Linked DNA regions of Homo sapiens. The protein of the gene in region 1 interacts with the protein of each later gene in a pairwise test. Each region holds a gene or a part of one and is shown in the gene's direction. Other genes may lie near its edges.

What was found. The genes of interacting proteins can lie anywhere in the genome.
Region 2: the proteins of SPATA2L (region 1) and ATXN10 interact in binary tests that used the Homo sapiens proteins (3 or more experiments, as listed by UniProt).
Region 3: the proteins of SPATA2L (region 1) and ELAVL4 interact in binary tests that used the Homo sapiens proteins (3 or more experiments, as listed by UniProt).

The regions. Positions count from the first base shown.
Region 1 is NC_000016.10:89,694,573-89,699,785, reverse strand, and holds the end of SPATA2L (spermatogenesis-associated protein 2-like protein), read left to right. Parts: intron 1-1,480; coding exon 1,481-2,452; 3' UTR 2,453-3,429; downstream 3,430-5,213. Other genes in the region: CDK10 (cyclin-dependent kinase 10), read right to left, coding at 4,094-4,191, 4,441-4,493, 4,716-4,855, 4,998-5,213.
Region 2 is NC_000022.11:45,736,657-45,746,020, forward strand, and holds part of ATXN10 (ataxin-10), read left to right. Parts: intron 1-2,074; coding exon 2,075-2,183; intron 2,184-3,712; coding exon 3,713-3,882; intron 3,883-9,364. UniProt on the Homo sapiens protein: May play a role in the regulation of cytokinesis. May play a role in signaling by stimulating protein glycosylation. Induces neuritogenesis by activating the Ras-MAP kinase pathway and is necessary for the survival of cerebellar neurons.
Region 3 is NC_000001.11:50,110,743-50,120,106, forward strand, and holds part of ELAVL4 (ELAV-like protein 4), read left to right. Parts: intron 1-9,043; exon of another isoform or gene 9,044-9,229; coding exon of another isoform or gene 9,230-9,274; intron 9,275-9,364. UniProt on the Homo sapiens protein: RNA-binding protein that is involved in the post-transcriptional regulation of mRNAs. Plays a role in the regulation of mRNA stability, alternative splicing and translation.

The DNA.
Region 1 (5,213 bases):
GAGGTCAGGAGATTGACACCAGCCTAACCAACATGGTGAAACCCCGTCTCTATTAAAAAATACAAAAATGAGCTGGGTGTGGTGGCACGCGCCTGTAATCCCAGCTACTCAGGAGGCTGAGGGAGGAGAATCACTTGAACCTGGGAGGTGGAGGTTGTAGTGAGCAGAGATCGAGCCACTGCACTCCATCCTGGTGACAGAGTGAGACTCCGTCTCAAAAAAAAAAAAAAAAGAGCACTCACCCTTCTACCGTCCCACGGCTGTCAGCCCAGTGCATGGACAGCCTCTGGAGAGCGCTGAAAACAGACGTGTCACCCCCATGGTGGAATACTACACAGCAGGGGGAATGAACGTTACAGCTTCTGTCCTTGTCTGCAAGACTGTAGTGGAAAAAAACAAAGTTCAGAACAACACGTTTAAGAGGCTACCTGTCTAGCTTTGGTTAGAGACCTTACAAAGAGGTGAAAAAAAAGGGGGGACTACCTCATACGAGGAGCAAACGAAATCTGTATTTGGGTTTGCAAAACAAACACCTGGGCAAGTACATTCAAAACTAATTAGATGAGGCCATCTCCAGGGGTGAAGGGAGCGGTGGGACAGAAGACAGTGGAATTTCTCAGTACAGGGGCTCTTCATTTTGTTCTGATTTGTGAGCTAGGTTAATGTATTCATTGTTTTTTCCATTAAATTTAAGAAATTCGGCCAGGTGCGGTGGCTCACACCTGTAATCCCAGCACTTCGGGAGGCCAAGGTGGGTGGATCATGAGGTCAAGGGATCAAGACCTTCCTGGTCAACATGGTGAAACCCCGTCTCTACTAAATATACAAAAATTAGTGGGGCGTGGTGGTGCGCACCTGTAATCCCAGCTACTCAGGAGGCTGAGGCAGGAAGATCGCTTGAACCCGGGAGGAGGAGGTTGTAGTGAGCCGAGATCGTGCCACTGTACTCCAGACAGAGCGAGACTCTGTCTCAAAAAAGAAAAAAAAAAAAAAATTCTAGGCCGGGCACAGTGGCTCACGCTTGTAATCCCAGCACTTTGGGAGCTCAAGGCAGGCGGATCACTTGAGGTCAGGAGTTTGAGACCAGCATGGCCAACATGGTGAAACCCTGTCTCTACTAAAAATATGAAAATTAGCCGGGTGTGGTGGTGGGCGCCTGTAGTCCCAGCTACCCGGGAGGCTGAGGCAGGGGAACTTGCTTGAACCTGGGACGCAGAGGCTGCAGTGAGCTGAGATGGAGCCACTGCACTCCAGCCTGGATGACAGAGCAAGACTCTGTCTCAAAAAAAAAAAAAAAAAAAAAAAAAAAAAGAAATCATCATGTTTGGGCCTGGCCCAAGCTGGCTAAGCCTAGTCTCTGGGGTTGGGTCTGAGCATCAGAAGCTGCCAAGGCCTGAGCCAACAGATCCCGGACCCACTGTACCCTAGGGTCTGGCCTATGGGAGGGTGGGCAGTCACTGACCTGGCCGCTCCCTTGCAGACCTTCTCTGGGGGCTACGTGCACGTGCTGAAGGGTGTGCTCTCAGACGACCTCCTCCTGAAGAGCTTCCAGAAGATGGGCTACGTACGCAGAGACAGCCATCGGCTCATGGTGACCGCCCTGCCCCCCGCCTGCCAGCTGGTGCAGGTGGCCCTGGGCTGCTTCGCCCTCCGGCTGGAGTGTGAGATCCTGGGTGAGGTGCTGGCCCAGCTGGGCACCAGTGTGCTGCCAGCTGAGGAGCTGCTGCAGGCACGGCGTGCCAGCGGGGACGTGGCCTCCTGTGTGGCCTGGCTGCAGCAGCGGCTGGCCCAGGATGAGGAGCCGCCACCCCTGCCCCCCCGAGGCTCCCCTGCTGCTTACAGGGCCCCACTGGACTTATACCGGGACTTGCAGGAAGACGAGGGGTCGGAGGACGCCAGCCTGTATGGGGAGCCGTCACCAGGCCCTGACTCGCCCCCGGCGGAGCTGGCCTACAGGCCACCACTCTGGGAGCAGAGTGCCAAACTGTGGGGCACTGGGGGCCGGGCCTGGGAGCCCCCAGCTGAGGAGCTGCCGCAGGCCAGCAGCCCACCATATGGGGCCTTGGAGGAGGGGCTGGAACCTGAACCTTCCGCCTTCTCCTTCCTCTCTCTGCGCCGTGAGCTGAGTAGGCCTGGGGACCTGGCCACCCCTGAAAGCTCTGCAGCGGCCAGCCCGAGGCGTATTCGGGCAGAGGGGGTACCAGCCTCAGCCTATAGGTCTGTCTCGGAGCCCCCAGGCTACCAGGCACACAGCTGCCTGTCCCCTGGCGCCCTGCCCACCCTCTGCTGCGACACCTGTCGCCAGCTGCATGCTGCCCACTGTGCAGCCCTGCCCGCCTGCCGTCCAGGCCACTCGCTGCGTGTGCTGCTTGGCGACGCCCAGCGGCGCTTGTGGCTACAGCGTGCACAGATGGACACTCTGCTCTACAACAGCCCCGGGGCCCGGCCCTAGGCCAGCTGGGCCCCAGGTCAAGGGCTCTTGGGAGACAGCTCCCGTGGTGCTTCTCTTTGCTGGGGAGGGGTCTGGGCCTCTGGTTGCCTTGTCCCTGGGGGAGTCCTGGGCACAGCAGGGGGTTGGAGAGTCCAGGCCAACCCTTGCTGGAGGTGGGACTCTCTGTATATGGAAGGCTCCAAGGGCAGCAGGCCTAAGCCGGCCAGCAGGAGCCTTTCCACATTTCCCCACCCTCGGAACCCAGACGCATGCCCACATGTGCTGGGTAGAGGGGTCCAGCCTGTTCCAGCCAGTGCCTGAACCTGTCCCTGAGAAGGACCCTGTGCCCCAAGGCCCGTGGCTCCTGGCCTGCTCCCTGCAGTACGGAGTACGGGGCTCAGGACTTGGGGGTCCTCCACGTGTCCCAGGGATTCTCCACACGAGTGTCCTCAAGGGCCTGTTGGTGACACCGAGCTCCCCCCACCCCAAGCTCTGCTGGAGCCAATCTGCGGGGCTCTGCCGGGTGCACGGCTGACCTGGCTTCGGGGACGCCGGCCCTCCCCTTGGGTGTCACAGCAGCTGGGCCCACAGACAGGAAATGACCTGACCTCAAACCAGATGTGGAGGTGCACGAGAGGCGCAGGAACGGGCAGTGGCTGACAGCTGGGAAGGCCCTGAGCGTCACTGCTGCTGGGCGGAAGGGCCTGTGGACAGCCCGCCCAGGCGGCGGGGTCTTGGTGGGTCCAGTGGTAATGGTGCCCCTCCCCTCCATTCCCTGTGGGTGCAGCCCACAGGCTGGCGAGGAGGTGCCTCTGCCCTACCCTCGGGTCTGGCGAGGGAGAGGGCAGGGTGCATCCACTGTGACAGCCCCTCTGGGCCCACAACTCCCTGACCCTGGAAGCTGAGCCTGCTTTCCTGACCCTCCGCCCCACCCCCTCCTCCCCAGAACACTCAGAGGGACGGTCAACATCAGAGCACATTAAACGCTGGTGAAACCATGTCTGTTAAAAAAGCTTTTATCCAACAAGAGCCTATAGCTTCGCTCAGCATCAGAGCCACGGCCTCCTGTTGGGTCCTCCATGTGGGGAGCAGGGATGCAGCTCAGCCTCCAGCCCAGGGCTCTCCTGGTAGTCTCGGGGTATCCTCAATTGTGGCTCCCACCCCATACCTTGTCCCTCTTGTCCTCATCTGGAGTCCTGCCAGGCCCACCTGGGGTCCCCACAGCCAACCCATGCACGGGACAGCCCCGGGCGACTGAGAGGGGATACGAAGGTCTTCTGGGCCCTCTCATCCCAGGCCAGCGTCCACCACAACTCAAAGACAGCGGGGGGACTGCACCCACCACTCCTCCCAAGAAGCAGTGGTTGCACATTTCCAACATAGCGAGGAGGACCACATGAGACCCCTGCAGCCACGGATGGAGCCGCCAGACCTGCCCTTCCAGGGTGCACGGGCTGGGAGCCCCCCGGTGTCACCCGGCCTTTTTCTGGGGGCAGCAGTGGGTTCAGGGCAGACAGTGGGAGGAAGTCAGTGGAGGATGTTCCCAGCCAAGGGGATGAGCTGGATCCCGGGCGCCTGGTCAGCCTGGCTCGCGGCACCCTTCACAGACACCACTGATCGGAAGACCTGGTGTGGGAATACAGGCGTGTGCCAGGCCCACCGTCAGGGTTTACAGCGCTTGCTCTGGCCCTCGGAGGTGGCTGGGGCGGCCCGCTTGTTGCGGTGGTGGGGAAAGGTCGGCATGAGCTCCGGCTCACAGGCTGCAGGGAGAAGGGTTCAGTGCTGGGCGGGGCAGGGCCCCAGATAGGAGGAGCAGGCCCAGGTCTGAGTCCAGCTCTGCCTCTGGACCTGGCCCTGGGCTGTCTGTGCCTCCACATGCCCCTGTCCTCTTACCCCAGAAAGGGTGTGCCGTCAGTGAGGGCAGCAGGCCACTTCTCCACCACCCACCCCGGGCAAAACGGGCTCCCAGCCATACCCCACAGAGCGAGTCAGGAACCCTGCACACTCACGTAGGGGCTTCTCCTTGAAATAGGAGCTCTCCAGGCAGTCCCCGGCCGTCGCCCTGGAGGAGGCAGCCTGCGTTAGTGCGACTTGTGAGTGCGGCTTCCTCACCTCCCACCCAGCTGAGCAGCCTGTGATTCAAATGCTCAAAGGAAGCCAGGTGGCCACTCCGAGCGGCTGTGCCTGGGGAGGGGCCTCTCCACCGCAGTGAGGCTGGGCTCTGGGAAACGGTCTGGACAGTGTGGGTGGTGAGGGTCCCTGCCCCCCGTGCAGAGATCAGCACCTTTTCTTAGGGTCGTACATGAACAGGAAGTGCAGCAGGCGCAGCCCGGCCTCCGACAGCCATGGGAACTTGTGCTTCAGGTTGTTGTAGGGCTGCTTCCGGAGGCTGTACTGGCCGACCAGTGGCAGCTTGGAAAAGCCCTATGGGAGGCAGGAGCTGAGGCGCAGAGGGCGTGGGCACGGGCGGGGGCTGCGGGCGCAGAGGGCGTGGGCACGGGCGGGGGCTGCGGGCGCAGAGGGCGTGGGCACGGGCGGGGGCTGCGGGTCTGCCCAGGACGCCCACCGGCCAGATGTTCTCACTGGGCGTGCCCAGCAGCTGCACGATCAAGTCGATCTGGTGGATCTCGGAAGTGCCGGGGAGAAGAGGCCTGTGCGCCAGCAGCTCGGCCAGTATGCAGCCCACAGCCCTGCAGAGAACAGTGGACCTCACTGCGGCCAGACGTCTGCTGACCCCGCCAGCGCGAGGAACAGAGGACCTGACTGCAGCCAGACCTTTGCT
Region 2 (9,364 bases), on another chromosome or scaffold:
GGTGGCACTTAACATATTCTTCTTTACCTTGCATTTCCTGTGAATGAAAATTCGTTCCAGAGGCATATTCAGATTTGGGTTAGTTTTTTTTGTTTATTTTTTGCAGTAGTGTTTCGCTGTTGATGATACTACTTTCGTCAAGAAGCACATGAGGCTTGGTTGTCTCTGTGATATTAGCAGTCATTAATGATCACCTAGATCCATGAATTCTTTAGGGGTTGCAAAATGGTGGCATTTTAACATTATTGTTCATTTTTTGTTTATTAGCAGGAATATTTTTTAAAGAGAAACTTTCCCTAACCAATTCTTAGGTTCTGTGAGGTACACTGGATGAAGAAAGGCAGGATAAGTGCTCGATTGTTTTCCCTCTTGATTACCAATCTTCAGAATAATGAGTTGGTTTTGTGGCATCATTCAAAGATGACCAGTGAGTTGGTTTGTTTTGTTTTATTTTCATTATGAAGCCATAGCTGTAAAACCGCTTGATTTGTTTTCAGTCCGTTACCGTTGTAATTCTTTCTGATGTTTAATGTGCCACTGCTGGCCGGTGGGAGCCTCATCAAGTTGTTTCTGATTCCGAATTTCTGACATGACCCTAGTAGCCTGTAATAGCGTCTTTGTTGTCTGCTATGACAAGATGTCCAGGGTTACCTTTTGCATGGGCTGTCCCAGGTCTGTTCTTGAAGGAGCAGTGGTATCTCACGATAACAATCTGGGCAGCTACACCTTTAACAAAAGAGGTTGATGAAGCTTTGTGAAATTGATGGAGTTGGTCAAGACTCGTTTTAACATGGTACTACTAATCTAGACTTCTAATCTAGATTTTCCCACTTAACTCTTTAGCAAAAGAAGGCTATGATATAAAATTAAAGATCCAAGACATTAAAAATATGAGTTGTTTTTTGCTATTTATTTTGAGATTTCAGAATACTATATTAATGTATTACCTTTAAATCTCTTAATTAGAAAACAGTAAATACACATTTAGAACTAACAAGGAAGTAATTTGTCTTTCTTTTGAAGAATGTTATCTCTTTTTTTTTTTTTTTTTTTTTTGTTTGAGGCAGAGTCTTGCTCTGTTGCCCAGGCTACAGTCCAGTGGCGTGATCTTGGCTCACTGCAACCTCTGCCTCCTAGGTTGAAACGATTCTACTGCCTCAGCCTCCCTAGTAGCTGGGATTACAGGCACCCACCACCAAGCGTGGCTAATTTTTATATTTTTTTTTACTAGAGACGGGATTTCACCATATTGACCAGGCTGATCTTGAGCTCTTGACCTCAAGTGATCTTCTGGCCTCGGCCTCCCAATGTGAAGAATGTTATCTTTATGGACTAACTTTATAATCTCTGCCACATTTTGTCAAATGATGGGTACTTTAAAAATGGGGTTCAAAATCTATACAAAAGTTACATTTAAAATTTTTGTATAGACTACTTAATGCTATGCAGTTGGTACTGGGTAGTTTCTTGGTCATGCAGTGTATTTGATAAATTATTTAGTAGCTATGTGAAGTAGCATTTTCAAACAGTACTGTCTTTCTAATCTACCAAGATATTGCATAGAAGTTCATATTTACCCAGAAATTATGCAAGTTCTTAAAGCCAGAGTTTTTTCAACCACAGCATTTTACAGGATTTCTGTGGACAAGAAATTAATGTATTTTATGGGATATTTGTATCTTTAAAGTGGAATTTGCATGCTGGGAATGCTTTAAAAAGAAAGTATTTGCATAAATGTCATGTACATAGCTAGTAATTTTGAACATTTATTCCACTGTTGGAATGTCTTTTTGCTTGAATAAGAACTTTTCTGACTCTTTGCTCCAAGAAGACACATAATGACACATAATCTTGCATTCTTGATGGCAGATGTCTGCTGTTAGTGAAAATGATGAGTCGTGTACATATTTCATACTTCTGTTTTGTTCTTCATAGTTTTGTTTTTCTCTTTGACTTATTACAAGCACAGACTCTTTAAATTTATTGAAATATTTTATTCTCTTACAGTTATTTATAACAGTTAAATAATTTCTCTTAAAATATGCTAAAAAGTTATGTTTTCTTTTCTTTCTAGGAGGCACTGGCTACAATTAGGCTTCTCGACGTCCTGTGCGAAATGACTGTGAATACTGAGCTGCTCGGCTATCTGCAGGTTTTCCCTGGCTTGCTGGAAAGAGTGATTGGTGAGTGAAATATCACACATTGTATTTTTAGCTAAGAAATCTTTGGCTTGTCATACTGTAATATAAATCCAAATACAAATCCTTAATTTTCAGTGTACTTTGGGAATTTTGTGAATATATTTTTTTGAGAGGAATCACAGTGTTGTAACAGTTCAGGCAGGCCAGATAAACCTGAGCCCATGTGTTTGTTCAGCCACTTCCCTTCTGTTAACTGAAGATTCCTTCTCAGTAATGTGAGGATAACAATGCCTGTTATGCATATAGTAGATGTTTCATCAATATAGGATGTGATGAAGAAGGTGGGGCAGGCAGGTTTGCGATGATGATTGTGGTTTTATATTACTATAGCTTTGTAAAATGTGGCAGTAAATTTTTCCCATTTACATTTAGTGAACACATAGAATGGTGTTTTATACATATTATATATACAAATCTTATGAGAAAAAGGTTTTAAACAAGAAACCATTGTTAAAAGTATTACCAACCTTGCTAAAAAGCTGTTTGCAAAATAATTCAAGTAGAACCTGTTCCTTGTGGCTAGCCATGCTTAGGTTTGCTGTTCATTATTTGCAATTTTTTCCTTTAAAAAGATGATACTTACTCTGGAGACCAGTGTCCTGAGAAAGATGACTTTGTGTCTAGCAGTATAGATGAGCTAGCAGTCAGCTGTAGAGGAAGATCCTTAGAATTCCTCATCAGTGTTGTATTTTGAGTACATTGCTTTTAGTGATAATTTAAATAAAACACCACAAACCTAGCACACTTGAGTGATTATGGAAGGAGCCTGAGTTTGGAGCCAGGGTCGATGTGGGTTGCCATCCCAGCTCTGCCAGGTGCCAACTTTTCTGAGCCTGTTGTTTTCTTCATTATAAAATTGGGAAAGTGATACCTTCCTGTATAGGTTTGTTGAGAGGGTTAAATGAGATAATGTGGAAACACTGAAATGCAGTTCCTGGAAGATTGTCTGTTTTCATTGGCTGCCTGGAGGTGCTCATAGAGTAGAGCAGTGGTAAGTTCTTTCTCCTGAATGTAGCTGGAGTGAAGTATAGAGAACATATGCTGGCTTCTGATGATTTGGCCAGTTGGATGAGGGAAAAATAAGCACTCTTCTTGGTTTCTGTCATATGCATCATTATGGATAGATATTGTGTTTTAGACTTCATTGACTGAAGTTATTAGAAAAGTTCTTTCATAAAGAAGTTGAGATTGGAAACCTTTTTGTAAGAAGGATGCTAGCAAACTTTTAGCTAACTTTTTTTGTAGATAAATAGAAACTCTGAGTTGGGGTAGTCATTATGGCTTATCTCCCCAAAACTAGAGTCAAAAAATTTAAAGCAAAGGCAGAAGAGCCTTCTAATCATTTTTTGAAGCAAAGGCAGAAGAGCCTTGTAATCATTATTTAAATAAAGCTTTCTGTGCTCTACCTTTAGCCTATTACAATAAATTAGATTTGTCTATGGAAAACTATTAGTACAACATACTAAAAGTTACTTTTCTGTGGAAAATGAAGTTTACTCTTTTGGTTATAGATCTTTTGCGGGTGATTCATGTAGCTGGAAAAGAAACCACAAACATCTTCAGTAATTGTGGTTGCGTGAGAGCAGAAGGTGACATCTCCAATGTGGCCAATGGGTTTAAGTCTCATCTCATTCGTCTGATTGGAAATCTGTGTTACAAGAATAAAGATAACCAAGACAAGGTAAGAGGATTTCTTAGTATGTATTATACATGTATGGCTTCATTTAGAATATAGTCCTTGGAAGACATTCACTCTTTTGGAGTGAAAGCTTGAGGTGCTTAGAAAGTAGCTTGGATAGAGAGATATATATTTTATATGAATACACACACACACACACACACACACACACACACACACACACATATATATACACACACACACGTGTGTGTGTGTGTGTATATATATATATGTATATGTTAATATATAGGCTCTTTGGAGCCTAGACAAATTTCTAACACACAGTAGATATTTAATAAACACTAGTTATTATTGCCTATTATCTTAAAAAACAAAGCTTAGATCTATATCCTATGTTTATGGACGATAGCATCATAAGCCTTTTCTTCTAGATGTTTTAAAATGGATATAAAAGGAATATAATATTTAAGTATGAAGTCTTTGAGGACCTAGTAGGCTGCTTTTAGAAACCTCTTATGTGCAGAAGAGCTTAAAGGTAGTTATATTGAGAATGTGAGAGAATGGTAAGAAAGATCTCAGGGCAGTTGGACCACATGCTTCAGATTGATCTCGCCTTTCTGTATTTTTCTGGAGTTTTACTTCGGGTGGCATTTGATTTGCTTAGTTAAATATTAATTAAATTTCTGCCAGATTATATTTTTCTAAGATGGTGGCAGAATGTCTTGCATTGTACATGTGTGTCTGCAGTATGACTTTGCCACTCCCCTGTCGAGGGTTGGCATCTATTTCTCCATCCACTTGAATCTGGGCAGGCCCTGTGGCTGCTGTGAGCAATCAAATATGTGATCCTATACCATTTGTAGCATAGCCCTTAACTGGTCTAGCTGATTCTATTTCTGGCTTCTTAGAAGCCCGTCACTATGTAAGAAGTATAGATTCCCAGAGATCACCTTGCTGCGAGTTGCTGAATACACATGGAAAAGCCCTGGAAGATAAGATACAATGAGGAGAGAGGAAAGGTCTGGTGAAGGAACATCAAGGCATGAGATGTGTGCGAGAAACCATCTTGGGAGTAGATCCATCCTCAGTTTCTTACTTGCCCAGCTGATGCCACATAGATCAGGGCCCCCCTACTGGGCATAGTCCTTCCTGAATTTATGACCCATAGTATTATGAGAAAAAGTAAAAAATAGAAAAAAAAAATAAGGGATATAGGTCCTGCTTCAGTTAGTAGCCCAGTCAGTTACTGTTGGACTGATCCTTCTTCAAATAGCAATTATAAACTTTGGACAAAAAATAGCCATGTGAAGACACTCGAATTTGACACAAACGGGCAGATTCTGGAGTGAAATTGATGCTTGGAAGAAGGGAATGACACAGTGTGTGGCATGCAGGGCAGTGAAAAGTCAGTTACAAAATCTTCCGTCTTTCTAGCTTGAAGAATCAAAGAACAGTTTGAGGGCAACCATGGCATTGGAAAGTGAGGGGGGAATTGTGGAAAGTAGAAAACAGACCCCAAACTCTGGGTGTCAGCTACCTAAATCTCTGCTAATGGCTGAATCACACGTGTGGGGCAGGCTCCAGGCAGCTAAGCTAAGGATGAAGTCATTGTATTGAGATTTGAGCTCCCACCCTAGAGTTTATAGTATTAAGTCCAACTTACACTGTAGATAATTAATAATTGCCCTCTAAAAAAAAAAATCAACACTCTTTAGAGGAATATAATATAATCCAGAATTGCCACAGCATAATGTATCCTGTAATGTCCAGGATACAGTTTACAATTGCTTGACGTTCAGGAAAATGTGACCTGTTCTCAATTGAAAAGATGATCAGCGGAGACTGACTGTGAGAGGACACAGATACTGGGCTTAGCAGACAAGGATTTTAAAGTACCAAATGTAACCGTGCTCAAGGATGTAAAGGAGATACGCTTCATAAGAGTGAAAAGGTGGGATATCTCAGCAGAGAAATAGAAACTATAAAAAAGAACCAAATGGAAATCCTAGAACTGAAAAATACAGTATCTAAAATAAAAAAAAAAAAATACCGAATGTGCTTAACCTCAAGAAAGATCACAGAGGAAAGAGCCAGTACACTTTAAGATACATCAGTAGAAATCATCTAGTCTGAAAAACAAAAGCGGGGAGAAAGATTGAAAATAAAACGGCCGCTTTAGGATGCTAAATGTTAGGGTAATTTGTTATGTAGCCGTTGATAGCTGGAATAATTCCTGTGAGACATGGCGCAGAACCAAACGCTAGACAACTTGCACTTTTAGTATATGGGCGCACCATTTTGGCAATCCTCATCTTCAGGAGAGTGAGACTACTGATTCCCCCCTTGGGAAATTACTGGACTGATTTTTGCAAAAGAAAGTTGATAGCGAATAAAGCACTTTACCTTTTTAATGACCAGGACTGCCTTTCTTGAGCACAAAAGAGGTGGTTTTTCTTGTGTTTAACTATTCTTTTGTTGCTAATTTGGACTGGCCTCTTATAGGAACAAAATGCAGTAACCCTTAAAAGGCTTGCGAAATAACTCACTGAAGTCAGGATCAGATTGCACCATAAGTAAATATGGAGTGTGCCCAAGTGCTGCTGTGCAGAGGTCACTGGGGCGCACAGGAAGTCGATGGTGTGTCCTGTCACTTGTGCAGTTGCTAATAGCACTGCTGATTTCTCAGCAAACAGTTTAGAGGGTATGAAGGAGTTCATTCTTTGAGTATCAACTCAAATGCCCTCTGTTTCTCTCAGTTTCTTACGTGTGTCAACAAAAGGCCTGAACCTGAAAGCATTACCTCTGGGATTTTTTTCCTCCTTCCAAAGACCGACACAACGCCGAAATCTTGTTCTGGATGTGCTAGAGTGTTCTTTATTCTTGTAGCCAAATCCTTGTTCCAGCTGGGTGTTACAGATATTTGCCTTGCTCATTGTTGCCTCAAGGGATGGAATTCACTCGCACTCAGATGACTTTGGTTATAGTTTTGGGAAAATGGAATGGATGGTTATGTAGCAGGTCTTTATCACGGGACCAGTAATTCTCAGTGTTTTGTCTTGATGGATTGTCTCACTTCTAACCCAGCTAGGGCTTTAAGGGAAATTTGGCTCTGTCTCTGCTCCAAGACTAAAGATCTGAGTTGGGAGGGATTTCGTATCATCTAGCCTAATTTGGGTTCCTCCTTTGCCCAGAAGACAAAAGGGACTGATGATTTATTGTTTAGTGTTTACTATGTCCTTGCATTGTGCTTAGTGAATTACATATATTATCAACTTTAATCTTTGCATCAGCCTTGCAAAGCAGGTTCTGGTAACCACATTTTAAGGAGAGGCCATCCAGTTAGGTGCAGAGCCCAGGGTAGAATTTGGATTTGTTTGCCTATTGAGTTCCCAGGCCTGTGCTCACTTCCTGCCCCATGGTGAGAACTTGCCAAAAGGTTGGAGAAAAGGGTTTAAAATAGACTTCCTGCAGGACTTCAGGCTGGAGGCTGGTCAGTCTGCGTCTCCTAGGCCAGCCAGGCCCCTTAGACTCCCTCCTGGTTGAAGTTGGGAGCTCTTGGGGGTCCTCTTATCCTTGTTTCTGATTCACCCATTCATCAAATACGAATGTTTGCTGGCTTGGGGATCCTTTGACGGGTAATTCAGGCAAGGTATTAATATCTTCTGTGGAGCTTCCATTCTGGCATCATCTGGGGACCATGCTTGCCTCTTTGAATCAGAATCTCAAAACTACTCATGACACAGATTTTCCTAAAATCTTTGTGTACTGCCTGATTCCTCTGAATTTTGAGCAAGACTCTTTCAAGCCCAACTGTGTCTGTGTTGTCTGTGTAACTTCATCCATTGCAGTGAGTATGGTGCCCACCTGCTGGATGGCCCTCTTACACTTGTGTGGCACTTTCCATTTTCCAGAGCTCTTTTCATCTGCTTTAGTTTGTTGGAGCCTTATGATACCTCTGTGGAAAGGGCTGAAAAGATATTTCCACCATCATTTTCTAAATGAAGAAACCAAGGCCCCGAGACCAAGTGTGATTTAACTCAGCTAGCACTTGCTGAGTGAGAATTGCCGTGTGCTGCATGCTCTGGAGAAGACAGTCGCTTTAGTGGTGGAATGACACATGTCCACTAGGAGCTGTAGCAAAAGTCCGTGTGGTGAGGCCTGTCAGAAAGGAACAGGGGGGTGATGTGTCCTCTGGGCTGGCTGTGCCAGGAGCATTTCTCTCTAAGGACAGGCACTGGACTGCCAGGAGCATGGTATCAACTGGAAGGATGGTCATCTTTCTTTGAGATACTTGTCTTTGGGCAAGATTTAAGAGAATCAAGGTACGTTGCCTCAGATTGAAAATCTGCACAGAAATGTATTTTATCCCAAATTCTCATGAGTCTTTAATGCTTAAGTCTGTACACGTGATAGATGTAGTGTTTCCTGAATTGTAAAGGAATTGCTAGACTTCCCTTTACCTCGTCATGGTAGGGAGGTGTCAAATCCTTACTGACTTCTATTCTTACCTTGTTTTTTTGTTCTCGACTTGTGTAGTATTTCCTTGCTACAACTGTAGTGATTAGTTTACTTCTAAACTTTTGTGGACCTAAATGGAGATTCTGTTTTGGTTTCTATTGTAAGAAGCACAAAGATACTAATGCTATAAACATGAAGAAAGCATTCTTCAGCTTCTTCTTTGTTAGAATAAGGAATGTATGGTTTACCTTTTTCTTCCCTATTCTTCTTCTTTTCACTATTGTCATAACCTCTTTAAGTGAATCTTTATTAGAAGAAAAACCAAACGTTTATTTCATAAAGCTAAGTGCATTTTTCAAATCGGACAGACAGATGATCTAGTTTATCTACCTTCCGCCCGCCAAGGAAATTGTATTGACTAGGATGGGCCATATATCCGTTCTGCTAAAGGTTATGGAACTGCTATTCAGTTTCTTCTCCTCCTCCTTCCTCCTCCCTGATTTAAAATATTCCCAGCAGTCACATACTTGATGATCCCATGTCAAATATATGTGCCTATAAATCTTTTACTATAAGCATACCTTAATTTTAAAGTAAGTCTGTACTGTATGAAAAAGTTCAACATGTAAAGACAAACTTTATTTGGCCCCTTCAGTTCTCAATTTTGAAGGCAGGTTCATTTATATACATAAAATAATCTTTGTAATACATTTTTCGTTAACTTTGTGTTGCTCATCATGTTACTCCCAGCATCTAAATTGTACCTGGCACATAGTAGGCATTCAGTAAATTTTTCTAATTTTTCTTGAATGACAATTTATTTGTAAAATAAATTGAATGTTGAATGTTTACTACATATCAAGTGCACTTTTAGGTTCTGAAGATACACAGCAAGTAAGACAGTTCTTTTCAAGGAGTGTAAATATTACTATACAATTTTCTGACTAAATTTACAAAGACTAGTAAAAATAGATAACTTTTCAAATGAAAATTAATGTTCCTTTAAATTCTGAGTTCTGTATTTTTGAAAGTCTTTTTTTATGTTTGAATATATTCTAATTTACTG
Region 3 (9,364 bases), on another chromosome or scaffold:
ATAGATGTTATAACAAAGCTGTGGTCTTTTTCCCATTCTTAGAGGATTGCCTTTGTCTGGCTGCTTGTTTTGATGGGTGTAAAACAAATAAGATTAGACCGAGCAGCCCAACTGAAAGCGATAGCTGGGAGGAAAACCCAATGAAAGGTTGCCGGGGAAACGAACAGAGGAGAAGCCGAGTAGGGAGCAGGTGGCTATCATGAGAACACACTGCAAACAGTGTAAAAAAAAAGGGGAGGGGGACAGGACCTCGATTATCTTTGCTGTTCTTTGTGGCCAGCCCAACTTTAATTATTCGTTATTAATAGGTGTTAATTACATTTCTAACTCTGGTTTACAGTGATTTTTAGAAATCTATTTTTAAGCATCTGTTCTGTCTCCCCTGTTTTTGTGTGTGTGTGCGTGTGTGTGTGCGCGTGTGGTTTTTGTTGTTGTTGTTGTTGTTTAAAAAACCCAGAGAGGAGGTGAGGGGGAAGGGAGGGTAGGGAATCTTGCTTTTTTTTTTTTCCTTTTTCCCCCTTTTCCCTGGTGTGAAATTGTACATGCGAAAAATCGCAAGGAATCCTGTGAGACCATTTGAAAAAATGTAAATTATATTGAATGAAGTTGACGGAAGCATAATAGTGAACTCCCACAGCTGATAGGTTCTGCAAATGATTTCTTAGAAATTTCCAGCAAATATTCATAGGAAAAATATAGGTAGAATAGATCTACCCTAAGCAATGATTTGGGGTTAGGTGATTTTGGTATTTTTACTAAATCGGATGTTGATACTATAGTTTCAGGGGAATTCATTGTACCTCTCATTTTTTTCCTCAGTAGAAATTACTTTACAAAATAATAAATGAAGAGCTTTTTGCTTTCCTTCTTTCCCCATGCCCACAGTCACAGGATCCATCAGGCTTGCACTCTCATAACCACTGCCTTCCATTTGGCATTTGGTCCTGATTCTGGTCTTGGCACAAACTGAGTGAAAAGCTGATTTTTATATTAGTGTCTTTGGACGTCTGGGACCCATGTGTGCACTGGGTGACAAGCATCTCTCTTTTTTCTCTAAATGTGCTTTACTAATAGTCTCTTTTTCTCATGATGGTGGGTACCATAAGGATTGAAAGGTGTAGTATTTGGGTGAACAGGAGATAGCGTAAAAACAATTGAAATGGTGATCTGTTAGGGTTTTTTACTAAAGGACAAAATAGATGCATGATCAGGGAGCTAATTGTAAGCCCAAAAATGAGAGATTTAAAAATGCTGAAATACACTAAAAGATTAGGAAATATAATTGGCTTTATTGAAAGTACACTTAATTTTTGCTCTCTTCATTGCAAATCCCCCCAATTCTTTTTTCCTTGCAGATGCGTCTTTTTGTTTTCTCTTCTTATTAGGGGATTTAAAAATTTTATTTTCACTCTTGAGGTAAAAATAAATAAACTTGTATTTTTTGTCATACACTTGAAACTTGCGGCCATATGTTGAGTGCATAAGCCTGTGTCACCTTTAAAAAAATAGAATTTTTTTAAGTCTCCAATATAGTTTCTTTTTTTATTTTCTGAGAATTTTCTGGCAATTTTTAGTTAGGGGAAAATAATTTCTGTAAGAAGTGTCATCTTGGCTTGGGTTGTAAAAAAGACACGTGGTTCTGATGCTGACCTTTCTCGATCCTTTGTCTTAAAAATATTAATGCCTACTACCTTCATGTGGAGTTGTGCTCTTATGGAAGCACAAGGCTGAATGTGCATTTATTAAGAAGTGAAAATCCAATTGGAAATATTTCTGCAAAAAACATCTGACTAAGTAGCAGTTTTAATGATCAGAATGTCCATATATCTCATAGTAACATAACAGCTAAATCATTTAATATTTAAATTTTTGAAAGGGTAAAATTAACATAGATGAGGAAGTAGCTGAAAAATTACTTTGAGAATTGTTGATTTACAAGACAATTTAATATCTCATTTTTTAAAAAGCTAACAAACAACTTAACCATTCATTTGTGATCTCAGTCCCATTCATTTTTACCTGCCATTCATTCAAGTCATTCTCCTGGCCAGATGTAGATGGCCTTGCTTCTGTTTGATGGTTTGCACAAAACCTTAAAACTTTTTCTCTCCCAATACTCCTTCCTTGGTCCTTTGAAAATTAGGGTGTTGTTATGAGAGGAAGGCCAGATTGTTGTGAGATAATAACAATAGAATATTTAGAAAGAGAGAGAGAGAAAGAAAATGAACTGCGCATTTGCCTTTTAGTTCTAAACTTAGTCTTGAAATTGGATTTGGGACACTTTGGACTTCAGATATTTTAAACTTAGGATTTCTATTAGGTATAAGCTATTTGAAATTTCACATCTAGAAATTATTGTTTGAATGGTGCTTTGTATGTGTGTGTTCAATATCTCTAAAAGGACTTGTGGATGAATTGAGATGTTTTTCTCAAGTTAGAGTTACTGTGAACAACAATGGGATTTCCTCAGAGTAAGTCTTTTTTTTTTTGGTTTGATTTCTTCCCTTTACACTTATTTCCTTATTATAGGTGGGTTCTTTTCCTATATGTAGGCCAAATACTATTTCTTCCATGAGGAGATATGCTGCTTCATTTAGCCCTGAGCATCTTAACACCTTATTTTAATTTTTTTAAAAAAAGAAACAAATTGTCTGTATGTACCTCAAGTAAGAAATGGTTGTCTTCATAGAGGTCATCATACATAGACGAAAGTACTTTGGCCTTGACAAATTTCTTCATTAGCTCCAATGATCTGTGGCCACCAGGCAGTTAATTTATATGCCTAGACATTTAATATGTACATTTGTTGGTGAGCTGGCCAGAGGATGCTAAACACACGAGTATGCGCTGGCAAATGCTGCAATGCAGTATTTTTTTCCCAATGTCATTGGGAATTTTGGGGCTAGGAAGGGACATGAACATTTTCAAGCTTTTATCTTACTATTGTCCAGTCGATGGGCCATGTTGTACAGATTTGGTCAATTCTCCTTTTGAAAGTAAAGTCAACCTTTTATTTACCACTATCCATTCCCCCATCCATGTAATGTATATGTGGAAAGTGTGTGTGTGCGAGAAAGAGAAGCAGAGAGACTCTGTGTGTATCAGTATAAGTGTGTTGCAGATTCCTGCACCTGTCTTAGGCTTTCCTTATTTGGTATTACTAAACATGTATACACACTTACTTGCAAGTATATGTGCATCTATAAATGGAGAGAAAACCAAACTGGGCTGCTTCCCATAAGAACTGGTTTCTCTTCATGACTCCAAGAGTTCTCATATTAGAAAAATATGAAATTTCAAATATTCATTAAAAAATATATATTCAGACCCTGCAGTCTGTTAGTAACCAAACACCTTTCTTTAGCTGCCACTTAAGAAATTATAAGTGTGCAAATGCATAACAATGTTTGTGAGCTAAAAGCCATCCCTTCAATCAAGGGCCTGGGTATGAATTAAAATGTGTGTATGTGAGTGTATATGGATATGTGTATATGTATGGGGGGCGGTGGGCAGGATGTTTTTCTTTGAGGGCATTTGAACCTAGTCTTTACCATTGGTAAAAATAAGGAGGCGGTAAGATGGAAGTGTTAACATCTGTGCTTTGCTTTGTAAGTTGGTGTGCAAGTGTGTGTGTATTAGGAACATCCTTATATTTGTGAAATCTCCACGTATTTTAGGGGTAAAGGGCTTTTATAGGTCACTGGCTTTCTAAGGGTAAAAAAAAAAGAAAAGGTGATCTGTGGGTGGGTGGGAGTCACAAGCAGTAATTGTCTTAAATTAGCTATTTAGCAGTGAAAAGGAAAAAAAGGCTGGAAGACAAGAGTGTAGAAGAGTACCAACATGTGGGTCTGCATCTTTCCGGTATAGGAGATAATGAGTGATAAATTTGAACTGGTGCAGTGCAAGATGCCCGATAATTTCTCTGAACCTTGACTTTGCAGGTCCATTACTTCCTTGCTTGCTTGTTCACACCTTTAATTATATCCAGTTTGGGATGCTAGCTGGGGGCACCACAGATAAGCCATTTTGTTTGTTGTTTACTTCATTAAGTATTCAGGCAGTGTATTCACAGTAGCTTTGGAGCATCAGTGTTAGGAATTGAGCAGTTTGGAAATGGAATTGTTAAAAAAGAACAAAAAAATAAGACAGCAATCAGCCAGCTAGCTTGCTTTGGATGTTCACATCCACTCTGCTTAATGGTAATATTTATGCTTTCCCTTGCACATTAATTAAGAAATAACTTACGCAGTGTCAGGGCTCTTAATAGGCTGGTGACTTTCTCTCTCTTTCTCTGTCTCTGTCTCCGTCTCTCTGTCTCTCTCTCTCTCTCTGTCTCTCACTCTAGCTCCAGCTGTCTCTTTCTCTCCACCCCACCCTTGAGACTGTCTTTGCTCAGAACATTTTAAGACCAACCAATTTTGCTTTAGGGGAGCTCATATTCAGATCCTTGTTGTATCTAATACCAAAGGTATTTCTCCCCTCAATAAAGATCCCCCTCTACAAGGATCAAGAAATGCTGAGAGCCCTAAAGGAATCCTTAAATAAATTTTGGTTGAGAAAGCAGTAGAAGTGTTGAGGAAATAAGGTCAGTGTAATTTTTGTGCTTGCGTTTTTGTTTTTTGTTGTTTTTGGAAAGTCTTATTTTTAACCCCAAAAGTAAAATGCAAAACTAGCATATGGGATTTTTTTAATGAAAAAAATATATATGTCTTAGGTCTCTCCTGAAAATAACCTCCCTTGGACTCTTCATTTGAAAAATAACATGTAAACTTTAGCTTAATTTTTGAATTACTCATTTTAAACTATAAAATATAGTTCATAAATATTTTTTCCATAGGAAGTTTAGTTCTTTTTTCAGGCTATGGGGAAGCAGAGAAATGACCCAGCGAAGATGGTGAATTCTGAAAAAAACACAGCATGGAGGTTTCCTCTGTTTGCACTTCGTAGCATTGAATCTTCTCCTGCTTCTATGAGTTATCCTTTAGCCCTTAAAGTTGTTTTGCCAACAGTGTTCATAATAGAGACTGACTGTCATTCCTTGTTGGGTGAAGATGTATTTGTTGAGGACTTACTATGTGCATTTCTTTGGAACGTGGAATCCAAGGTCACCATTTCTTTTTCTTTTGACAATGATCAGAAGACATAATTAATTAGAGGATAAGTCCCTGTGATTGGAGATGAAGTTAGGGTGAGGGATTTTTAAGGTGGCACATTGCACAATGAGGTTTGTGTCAAATAGTAAGAAAAGGTCTGCTGGAACATTCAAGTACATAAATGTCTTTCCTTCTGTATTTATAAGCATCTAGGTGTGACTCCAAAAGATAGAAATAAGAGATCTTTTGGACATTTTAGTCTATAAGGTTTCATGTGTCCACATCTTCAGCCTCAGGAAGAAATATAGAAGTTTGGACTGTTGAAAGGAACTTGTCTTTCAGTCAGCAGCCCATGAAGCTTGGCTGAAACTGGTTAATTTTACAGAAACACGAATGTCTTGCCTCCTTGCTTCTGATGTAAGTGGCTTTTTGAATTCCTTTTCCTCTGTTACCTCCCAGGAGCATCTGAACAGATAGTGACCGTTTTGGCATGCCAAATTGGAAGTTTGCTAGTGGAGCAGAAATCATAGTTACTTTGTCATATACATCTAAATACTGTGGTGTGTGTGTGTGTGTGCGTGTGTGTGTGTGTGTGTGTGTGTGTCATGTGTTGTAGACAGCTGGGAGCCCCGGTGTGCCGTGGGATGTGCCAATAATGGCTTCTAAAGTACTCTGTGTTTTCCTAAGCTGCCAGTCTAAACCCTTTAAAGGTTTGCTTTCTAATTTGTACATGAAAAATAACAGGCTGAGTTGAACTTTTTTTTTCAAGTGCCCCCTTTGAAGATGCAGCAGTAGTAAATACTGCTCTAATGATAAACTTTAGTTCTAAGTGCTACTTAAAAGTCTGTAGTAGAAAGGCTGAGAACTTGCCATCTTTACTAATGAAGCTTTCCTTAGGAAAATGCTCACTTAAAAGGGAGTAAATGACCAAGTCCCTGAAATTTGTGATTTTTACCAGATTTGACTTATCTTTTCTTATTTTACTTTTTGTAATGCAGCCAACCACACATCCAAAATTCTTGGTATTATACATGTCTTCAACATTAATTATCTCTGTTGATGCACTGGGTACAGATAGTACAGTTCCCACAAGTCCAGATTCTTACTGTAACACCAAAACAAAAGTGATATTTATGAATAATATTGGGAAAGTTGTCCTCATAGTAACCATTCCCCAAAGGAAGCTTTACATAAATGTGCACTTATTATTCAGGATATTAAAAGGGAATCGTTAGCTTTTACTTTTTAATTTGGGCTAAAATATGTAAATTGGTTTTATTTTGGAGTTTCTCTGTTTTAGGTGACTTTGGGGGAGGATAACTTTCTAGCTTGATTATATTTTAATCACCTCTCTAGTGGAAAAGTTAATCTTAAAAGCAACCTGCTTATTGTGATTAGGACCCAGAGGGCCTGTGTTCAGATGGGGCTAAAAACATATTATATTGACCTGTACACACGTAGAAAAATTAGATTTATTTCTACTAGATACCGCTATTACCATGCCTTTGTTGGCAAGGCTATCTCAGAGACCAGAGAACCGTGAGTCTGCCTCTGGCCTCCGAGGAACATCACGGTGTGCCTGTACAGGCAAGCCTCTAAAAAGATTGTTCTTTGTCTTAAGAAACTGGCAAGTGCAAAGGACTTCAGAGTCAGTTGAACTTAAGTTGGAATCCTAGCTCTTCCAGTTACTAACTGGGCAATCACAGATGAGTTACTTCAACATGAGCCACAATTCCTCATCTTTAAATGGTGATGACAATATCTAACTCACAGGGTTTCTGCAAGAATCAGATGAGAAACAGTATTTGAAGGCACCAGTCATACATAGGACTTGAAAATTGAAGGTGCTTTGAGGGTGTTAAGTCTCTTTCAGTCTGTCAGTCTTTCTGTCCCTTGGCAAAAGCCCTTCCCCAGAAAGAGGCCCATCTGCCCATGCCAGATGTCCTGGGCAGTGACATTGTATGCTACCCTCACTGTCTCCATACTGTCCCCAGCATGCAAGAAGGGTGGCACACAGTGTTGTTGTTTTTTTCTATATAGACAAGCCCTCAGTTCTTCCTCGGAATTGTATGGCTTTATTAAGTTTTCTGCATCCTCCTAGGATTTCACAAGCTGTATCCATGATCTCCTTTGGAATTAGAATTCACTTGGGATTTAGTTGTCAAAAGAGAAAAACGATGAAGATAAAATTAATTTTAACCAGTGCTGTTTTTTTAATTTCATGAAAGAGCCTGTTAGGAAAGTTAAAAGTCAGCCAGAAAGAAAATAAAAATAGGCTGAGCTTAATTGATATGGTCCCATCTTTGCTGTCTGTATATTGTAACTTGCAAATTATTTGACTTTTTCCCAGAAACCAACTTACTTCAGATCTATTTTTTTTCCTTTTCACTGTATCAGCTGTTTTCCTCCTTTCCCCTTGTTTTCCCAATAGGCTGAACTTTGAAGTTCTGTTTCTCACGGAATGGTGAAGAGGTTGAGGCAAAAAGTGGCTTAATGAGATTTTTGTAACTTGCCATCAGTTTTCCTTCTGCTTGGCAAGGCAGCATGATGGATGGCTTTGGCAGTGTGAACACCTCTAGAAGTGATCAGATTGACTGAAGAGATGTGCAGGATGTCAGCAGAATGCTGACCCTCAATTCATTACCCTCCCATTTGAAGGAAAAAAAAAGAGAGAGAGAGAAAAGAGGAAAACAACCACAAAAGCCTTGGCGTAGTTGTTGATTACACACACTTGGGAAGGGGTAATGGGTCGCGTCAGGACTGGTGTTAGGTTAAACCTAATTTTGTACCTTTTCCCCAAGGGTCTGAAGGGGGAAATAAATAAATAGGCACCATAAATTAATTCACAAATTGTTCTAAATGGGGACCTGTTGCTGTGACCTGTTGCCGTTATGAAGAAATAATACAAATTGTCCTGAAGGGATTCAAGATTCAAATTGAAAACACAATCTTGAAACACCGATTTTGAATTCTACTTCATATGCTTACAGGAAGGATATAAAGGGAAGTCGATTTTTTTCTTCAATGTAATCCTTAAAGTAGGGGAAGGGGTTATTAGTTGATCTGATATCCCAAATGCCATTTTGCAGGTCCTATGCTAAAAAAAGAAAGAGAGAGAGAGAGAGAGAGGGAGGGAGGGAGGGAGGGAGAGAGAGAGAGAGACAGAGAGAAAGAAAGAAAAGAAAGGAAAGAAAGAAAGAAAAAGAAAGAAAGAAAGAAAGAAAGAAAGAAAGAAAGAAAGAAAGAAAGAAAGAAAGAAAAAGAAAAAGATCCTTTGCTATGGAACAGGCAGACAATAAAACTTTTCTCTTTCCATATGAATCTATTTTAAGTCTTCACCAAGAATCTTTGGAGGATTTTGCAGGTGTGTGTCTATACATATTGTATGTGATGTGCAAGCTCTCTGGAAGAATTTGGTTGGTTTTTAGACTGTGTTTGTATGGGCAGAAATATATCTGTAAAAAGCGGGAGGGACTTGATTTTGGAGAAGGGATGGTATAGAAGATGTTTGTCCATATTTTAGCCTTGGAAAATCTCATGCCTATTAATGAAGGACAAAAAAGAAATGATTTACTGATTTGAGCAGGCAAATGAGAAGGTTGGATATTCTTAGGACCTTCTTGCTAGGTAGGTGTTTGTTTATTTAAAAGTTAAAAATTCATCCATATTTAGGTCAATACTTGAATCTCAGTTCCTTCTTTTTTTTAGATTTCTGGCTGAAGTTTTTCATGAGAAGAAAAAAGACTTGGAGCTTAGAACTGCTTTAGTAAGAACTATTAAACAGGTCTCCAGTCATTGAATTTTGGAGGCATGGGCTTGCAGTTGGTATAATCTTAACAGTATTCTTCCTGAACTATCCCATGTCCATTTCCCAAGAACAGAAGAACAAGTTCGCATTCTAGAACTTCAGCTGTTCTCAGCATAGTTCTGCTTGTAACAGATCTGTGACCATAGAGATCATCTTTCATGTTCACTCAGCCTTGTATAATTTTTGCCCTATGGTGTCAGTTTGATCTCTTTAATGTAATTAGGGCAGGTACTGTTAACTCTTTTTTATAGAAAATAAAGCTTAGCCACTTGACTAAGCTTGCACGTTTAGTAATATCAGAAGTCTTCGCTCCAGAGTGTTTGGGAATATGTCCAGCTCAGCCAAAGTTTACTTTTCTTGGGGGAAAAATAAGGTAATTTCTCTTCTATATCAAATTTTTCGTTGGAGAATCAACAAATATATATATATATATATAGCATGTCTGTTGCATATAAACCATATT